Regions from separate parts of the Homo sapiens genome. Here region 1 is reported to be linked to region 2. Evidence: microRNA targets listed by miRTarBase, many of them from high-throughput screens and not tested one by one. Region 2 holds a microRNA gene; the other region holds the end of a gene's coding sequence.

What was found. The annotated mature microRNA hsa-miR-1267 reads CCUGUUGAAGUGUAAUCCCCA and lies in region 2 at 2,678-2,698, shown strand. An mRNA with a match to its seed (bases 2 to 7 or 8) in the 3' UTR can be bound and repressed. Matches are read on the target gene's strand: a 7mer-m8 pairs with bases 2 to 8, a 7mer-A1 pairs with bases 2 to 7 and ends in A, and an 8mer does both.
Region 1: the mRNA of PTPN2 is a reported target of hsa-miR-1267. Seed matches in the 3' UTR shown: 7mer-A1 at 1,383-1,389.

Annotation. Positions count from the first base shown.
Region 1 is chr18:12,790,935-12,794,934 of GRCh38, forward strand. PTPN2 (protein tyrosine phosphatase non-receptor type 2) reads right to left here. Exons shown (of 9, transcript NM_002828.4): 9 at 1,218-3,551. The coding sequence ends at 3,344. Among named protein-coding and RNA genes, the nearest start is that of LINC01882, 44 kb to the left of the region's middle.
Region 2 is chr13:107,529,763-107,533,914 of GRCh38, reverse strand. It overlaps MIR1267 (microRNA 1267), which reads left to right and starts at 2,667; the gene lies at 2,667-2,744. The region is part of intron 1 of NALF1 (NALCN channel auxiliary factor 1); the gene reads left to right. LOC112268110 (a long non-coding RNA gene) reads left to right here. Exons shown (of 3, transcript XR_002957493.2): 1 at 1-4,152.

The sequences.
Region 1 (4,000 bases), not on the chromosome of region 2:
CCAAAAGACAGAAAACCTCACAAATGTATAAAGTCTCCTCTAACACAAGAAATGGTCTAAAGTCCTCCATGTGCTTATTACATGTTACTTTTCTTAACCCTTTAAGAATGCAGAAAATGGGTATTTTCATTTTTATATGGATACATTAAACATGGAGAATTATATTTTTACATTCTATATATGTGCAAGCATAGATAAAACTCAGTCATAGGCTAACATAAAATAAATACTTGGTTAATATTGGAAAGGAATATATAACTTGTTGGTGTAGCTAGAGAACACAGCATTAAACCAAAGGTTGCTGTCAATCTATTAGCAGAAATAGATATGAGTGGAAATGAACTAGATATGAATTAAAAACTCCTGAAAATAAAAGAAACATTTTTTTTATAATTTTTTCTTCCTTAAGCAACACTACATCATTCAAGTCAAAGTATATATCTGACTCTTAAAATCTGTTAAAATTAGAAAATATTTAATATTATGAGGACCTAAGGATACAACAAGTTTTTTAAAGCTGTAGAACCCATCTAGAATTGCTAACTTTTTCCTCTGGCTGTTACCAGAGAAGGCAGCCACGTCTGTCTCTTTGACCAGCACACCTCATTCAATAAAAAGTCAGGACTTTTTATCATGGGCACAACACGATGTCATGTGTTTTCATGACATCCACCAAAAAATATTATTACTGGTAAAAACTGAACACTATTTAAAGCATCCACTGTCAATGCCCTTCTCAAGGATCTGCTCAGAGAAGGAAAGATGACTAACCTTAGAAGTGTACCAACAAGTGTTCATCACACTGAATGTGGTTTTAAAAATATATGCGACACCACCCAGAAGGACAGAAAGCATACAGAAAGCAAAGCGTAAGCCAATGAAGCGCATTCAGCCAGCTGAGGGGTGAGGCACGTCCTCTCTGGCACTGGCTTCCTCAAGTCTTCACCTGTGTACCGAAAGCAAGCCTAGTTTCAACTGGAAATGTCATAAGGTCTACCTGTATGTGACTTGCAGAGTAACATAAACATACTGCATTTAGCAAAGACAAACCAATGCAAACTGGAAAGAGGTTTTAAACCAATAACAACCTGAAATGTAAGGGTCTTGGATGCCTCAACACAGGTTTAATGCAGACAGACATAAAAAAATGTCCCTCTTACCTCCTCTCCATTTCAAGGTTACAGGACACAGTAATACTGAATCAGGACACAGGCACATGTTATATAAATCTTATTTAATATGTAGTACCACCTACATCCTGCTTTCATACTTTCAACATAATTTAACACATTCAAGGAGACTATGCAAATCAATTCAAAATATCTATCTATACCAATGGTTTTCAAACTTTTTTTTTTTTTTTTTTTGAGACGAAGTCTTGCTCTGTTGCCAGGCTGGAGTGCAGTGGTGCAATCTCGGCTCACTGCAACCTCTGCCTCCCGGGTTCAAGTGATTCTCCTGCCTTAGCCTCCCAAGGAGCTGGGACTACAGGCATGCACCACCACGCCCAGATAATTTTTGTATTTTTAGTAAAGAAGGGATTTCACCATGTTGGCCAGGACAGTCTCCATCTCTTGACCTCGTGATCCGCCCGCCTTGGCCTTCCGAAGTGCTGGGATTACAAGCGTGAGCCACCACACCCGGCCCAAACTGTTTTTTTTGTTTGTTTCTTTTGAGATGGAGTCTCGCTCTGTCGCCCTGGCTGGAGTGCAGTGACGTGATCTCAGCTCACTGCAACCTCCATCTCCTGGGTTCAAGCAATTCTCCTACCTCAGCCTCCTGAGTAGCTGAGATTACAGGTGCCCTCCACCATGCCCAGCTAATTTTTGCATTTTTAGTAGAGATGGTGTTTCACCACGTTGGCCAGGCTGGTCTTGAACTCCTGACCTCAGGTGATCTGCCCACTTCAGCCTCCCAAAGTGCTGGGATTACAGGCATGAGCCACCGCGCCCGACCAAACTGTTTTTAAATGATAACTGCCCCCTTTAAAATACTTAAGCCTTATGCAGAAATCTTATGTGGCATATAAAGAGACAAGGCAGAGATGCTGTGGTTGAAAGTAACCTCTTGACCCACCTGGACATCCAATGAGCATAGTTTGAAAACCACTGAAATAAGGTATGCTATCCATAATAATGTATGCTATCCATGCCTCCTAGCAATTAAATTTGTAACAACAATTTCAAGTTTAAGTAAGACAAATTAAACACTGAATGGAATGTTGAAATCTGAGGAAAGCTAGCATTCAAATGAGCAGTTAAATTCATTAAACAGTTTGCTTTAAAAAATATTCATTAAGTTAAAATGACAATGTAAGGTTTGCATATAATCATACTATTTATTGAAGTAGAAAGAAACTGAAAAGTGTTTACTTCAAAACTTCAGTCTAGTAAACTGAAATTATGAATCATAAAATGCTGCTTCTTACTTTTGCTTCCTAAATCATAATCTACCCCAACTACATTGAAATTTTCATGAAAAATAAACATATCAATAATGGGATTTACAGAAACCAATTTCTTTACAAAGTCTTGACCAACTGTTTACCTGACTATCCCAGTAAGGAGAATTTTCCTTCAAAGATATTTTTAGGAAAAACTTTTGTTTCTTTGTTTGCTTTTCTTTTTAAAATGGGGAAAACTGTAAAACATAAAAGAAATGCAATATATAGTAGAAATTGCTTATTCCAACTTCTAACTGCTCATATCAAACTTCTCTTTAGAAAAATGGAAAATGTATCCAGTACAATTCAATCGACATACAATTTATTTTTTTAGTAACAGATTTTTCAAATTGAGCTCTTAAAAAGTACAGTTAACTACAAAAGATTAAATAGATACTTATAAAATATATTTACCCTGAAATGCTTAAGAATAAAAGTGTTGATGCCCATGTCAATAGTACATTATACATTACACACATTATTTAAATGTCATTTTCTTTCCAATAACGTAGATAAAACCACAATATTTATTGCTTATATCAAGTGCAGGTTAAAATCCAGATAGCCTCCAAAAACAAATCCTGTGATAAAGGATATCTCAATGTTGGTCAGGTGAAATACTGTGTTTGACATGTATGAATACAGTTGCAAAATTTACCAGTTTTTAACAAACATGAATGTCTTTATTTTAGACAGCCATTTACAGTTTGGGGTTCAGAGGAACCTGCAGTCAAGAGTCCTGAGATGTTGGGCTTGTGACTGTAAATATCACTTATCTGGTTGATGTCTATTCTACTGCACCGTTTTTGGGATATGAGGCGTTTGCTGCAGACAAACCCCTATGATTAATGTAGCACTGTCAGTTACTAGTGCAGAAGCTTGCTGGGCAAAATTAATTGTTTATAGGGCATTTTGCTGAAAAAACAGTGTCCAGCCAACAAAAGCGCCAACCAAAATGACTGACATAAACCCCATCTTAGTGAGAATAGGTTGCCAATATAACCACCTTTTTCTTTTTCGTTCATTCTCATTTAGCCTCTGTTTCATCTGCTGCACCTTCTGAGCTGTGGTGGCCTTTCTGTCCTCTCGAATACGTTTCCGTAGAGCACTATGAGGAAATAAAAACAAGTGAAAGGAAGTGCACACAGAGCAGGACTTGAGTACTCTAACACAGAGGACCTAGGCGCAAATAAAACCATCCACATAGTTTTCACCCTATTTGAACACTGGAATAATGAGGGGAAAAGCCTCAATATTCTTTTGAGACAGCGTCTTGCTCTGTCACCCAGCCTGGAGTGCAGTGGTACAATCTTGGTTCACTGCAACCTCTGCCTCCCACGCTCAAGTGATTCTCGTGCCTCAGCCTCCCAAGTAACTGAGACTGCAGGCGTGCACCACTATGCCCAGCTAATTTTTTGTATTTTTAGTAGAGACAGGGTTTTGCCATGTTGGCCAGGCTGGTCTTGAACTCCTGACCTCAAGCAATTCACCCGCCTTGGCCTCCCAAAGTCCTGAGATTACAGGTGTGAGCCACGGCGCCCGGCCAAGAAAAGCCTC
Region 2 (4,152 bases):
TTAATGTTAACTCTATATTTTCAAACAGTTTGTAGAACTGATTTTACCTATGTTCAATGACAAAGACACTCCCTTAGAAGTATTGAGCTTTTCCTGAGACCTTAACGGAAGACATGATCCTGGATGGTGTCATGTTAGGCATCACAGACCCTCAACAAAAGACAGATTTGGGGGTGTTGCTTTGTTGGAGAGTGTGTTTTGTTTTGTTTTCTGAAAGATGGCCTTTGGAATACTTCCTCAAGTCCTTTCCTGGTAATTATGTGATTCACAGAATCTCTAATTTGAACAGTTATTAAAGAATATCTTCATTTGTTTGTGCTGCTGTAGCAAAATACCATACACTGTGTACTTTATAAAGAACAGAAATTTATTTTCTTACCATTCAAAAGGCAGGGAAGTCCAAGATCAAGGTGCAGGCATGTTCGGTTGTTGGATGAGGGCTGCCTCCTCTGTAGGGGAGGAAGGCTGTGTCCTCTCATGGCAGAGACCTGAAAGCCCTTTTCAGAAGGGCCTTATCCATTTATGGTGAAGGAGCCTCATGACCTAATCACCTTCCAGGGGCCCTGTCTTTCAATGCTGTCACTGTGGTGATTTGGTTTTAACATGAATTTTGGAGGATCTGACATTCAAACCATAGCAAAGAACCTACACTCACGTAATTATAGCACTCTGCATTTCAAATGTGTAAATTTCTATAAATGTTTCTAACAGTCACTTTACAAACAAAATATGTAAAACAGAGAAAAAAGAAAGGGGCAAAACTGAGCCTCATTAAAAGTTATGGTTATAACTCTCTTTTCGTGGGGATATTAATTTTAGTAGAATGAGTTAAATAAAAGTTTAAGTCAAAAAGAGAGGCAACAGCTGCCTCCAGTCAAAGTGTCTGGTTTCTAAATGATGTTTTAAATTTCCAGCTTAGCATGTATTCTTAATTTTTATATCATTTTTAATATGTTAATGGCTACTGTTTTTAGGTTGTTTTCTTAACAGTTCTGCAACTACCTTTAAGATGTTTTTTGAAGTCTAGGTGGCAATATTTTGTCTTCAGTTAATATAATTGCAATATTACGTTAGAAACTAGCACAAAATTATATTCCTGAATAATCTCTAAATTGCTAACTTTTCAGGGATTTATATTTTCTGAAAATTAACATTCTTGAGAATTTCATTAATGTCCCAGGCAAATCACATAAATGGACCAAACACATGAGACAGAAAAATTAAAGTTGAAATGAGGTCTATAAGAGATTCTCAAATATTTGAAATACCTCAAGTCAAAAGATATGAGTATATAAAAACTTCATGTAATATAATTTGATTAATTTTCCAGTAGTTTATGGAGTATGATTTTGGACTATACCACACTGTAAGCCTTAGGTTTTGTAATAACCTGAACTCTTGATATTTAAGAAGATAAATTTCATGTTTGTTGATGAGGAAGCACACACCACTAGAATGAACGCTTATTGGAAAAGCATTGTAACACTGAGAAAACACTAGCAATGAATGATTTTTCTTCATAGAGAAAGGAAGCAGCAAAACAGTCCATAATGAGAGCTCAGCCAAGGGAAACAAAAATCATTGAAATTTCTTAATAGATTCTTTAATACTGATTATTAGATAGAAGCATGTTTTACACTGTGGGAATCCATAAGATTTCAAAGAAAAAGATGCTGTTTTACTTTAAAATGTTGACCTTGAAAGGCTGTAGCTTTTTAAACTCTACTTTTGTTCACTTTCTTTCTCTTTCATTTTGTTCTTGGTTGTCTGCAAGAAACTTGGAGGAGAACCTAGCACATCAAAGGATTTAGTATACAAAAGGGTAGCTTGTAAGTCAGTTAAGAAACAAAGCATTTTCTATTAAATGCTTCTAGGATAACTCACTATTTGAGAGAAAATTTTCAAGTTAGGTAAGTATGCAAATTCAGCTGCGTTATGAACTTGATTGTGAAAAAGCCATGTTAGTCATCTAGAAAACAAATACGTAAATAGAAGATTGCAAAATGGCAGAGAAGTTTATAAGCATAAAATTAATTTTTAAAAATTCTAAGGGGAGTATCAGTAGATAATACTTCACATGACACAAAACTTTGGCATATCTAACACCATCATAAAAAAGATGCAAATGAGAAGCTGGAAAAATTACTTGCAACACGTATTCCAGTCAAACAACAACAAAAGAAGATGAGCATACTGAGATAAAAGTGGAAAAAAATACAGACAGACAACTCATAAAATGAAAAAAATACAAACATTTAATGTGAGTTTAACTAAAATGTACTGGTTTTGATGTTGAATAAACTGGGAAAATTAATAAGATAATATTGATGATTAGTGTCACTGATTATATTAGACCATTCTTGCATTGCTATAAAGGAATACCTGTGATTGCATAATTTATAAAACAAAGAGGTTTAATTGGCTCATGATTCTTCAGGCTTTATAGGACCCATGGTTCTGGCATCTGCTCGGCTTCTGGGGAGTCCTCAGGAGCTTACAATCATGGTGAAAGGTGAAGAAGGAACAGTCTTTGTCACGTGACCAGAGCCAGAACAAAAGAGAGAGAGTTGGGGGTAAGGTGCCATACACTCAGAAGAAGAGCTCACTCATCACCAAGAGGATGGCCCAAGCTATTCATGAGGGATCTGCCTCCGTGATCCAAATACCTCCCAAATCTCCTGTTGAAGTGTAATCCCCACCTCCAGCATTGGGGATTACATTTCAACATGAGATTTGGATGAGGACAAATATCCGGACTCCATCAGTGGTCAAGAACTTTTTATTTCTGGAGAGCTATGTTAAAATATATGTTAAAAGTCCATCCTCTTTAGTTCTGTAATTCCTAATATAGGAATGCATCCTAATAAAATATCTCAGATGTATATATATATATATATGTGAATGACAATGTTCAGCAGAGTTCTTTTTTAGGGTACAAAGACTATCCCTTTAACAGTTTTTACATAACTAAAATGTTTCCACTAAAAATCACAATAAAAATCGTCAGTGTTCTTTTCACATTTCAGGCAATCCTGCTGGTTTTCATATTATTTTTAAAACTTTATAAGGAGAATGGTGAAAATAGTTCATATATAACTTAGATGCTTGTTCTTTCTATATTGTCAGCTGCTTTTCACAAATGATTAGCCTCAGCTCTGGACAGATTTCAGCTTACATCAATATGATGTAAGTGATACTATGTTTTCTCTATAGCTGTGGTGATTTGCAATATTATTTTTGCCTCCTATTTGTCATGTAGTACCTGCTGGGCTGCCTCAACAGATAGTATTTGTACAATGGCATTTTTGTGTGGAATGAGTCCATCTTCTGCATACATCCACATGTTATGAATATACTAAAATGATCACAGGTCATACATAAAAATCTTGTCATTTAAAAAAAATCTTACAAATATTAAATTTAGAGGAATGTCTTAGATTTTGCTTCAGTCTATATGGATATACTTCATTCATTCAGCAAGTAATTTGCTGAGCACTTACTATGTATGATGTTTTCATGGCTCTGGGGATATAGTAGATGATCAAGTAGCTTAAAAGTATCCATGCTAGTGGTGGATATAGGTAGTAAATAGGAAACAAATATAAAAATAATTATGGATTGGGATATATGCTATGAAGTAAACAAAGGCAGACTATCTTGCTAGGATGGAGGTTTTGTCTTTGGACAGAGCTTTTAGGCCTCCTTAAGTAGATGACTGAGCTATAAAGCATAAGACTGAGCCTGCCTCATTAATAGGCAGGAGAGAGTGTCCCAGGGTGGAGAGAGAACAAGGTAAAGGTGCCCAGGTGGGGATTTGAGGGTTGGAGCTAAGGGAGCCCATATTGCTGAATAAGAGTGAGCTGTGGAAAGAAGGCATGAGTTAGCTATAGAACCCTTGCTTCTTATTCTTACTCTTGGGTATTAACAGTCATCTTCCTCTTGAAAGCTGAGAATAGCAGTTTAGGCAGATTGTGAGTTTGGCTTTGGTTCTTTATGGAAAGATACCTTGGAGTCCCATGGCCACTAGATGAAGGGATGTCAAGCATTGTAACTAGCCAACTGCATCCCTACCATGGATAGTTTCCAACATTCTGTTGCTCTTAGAAAGTCCTGAGACATCATCCTTTCCTTCAGGTGATGCCCGTTCCTCTC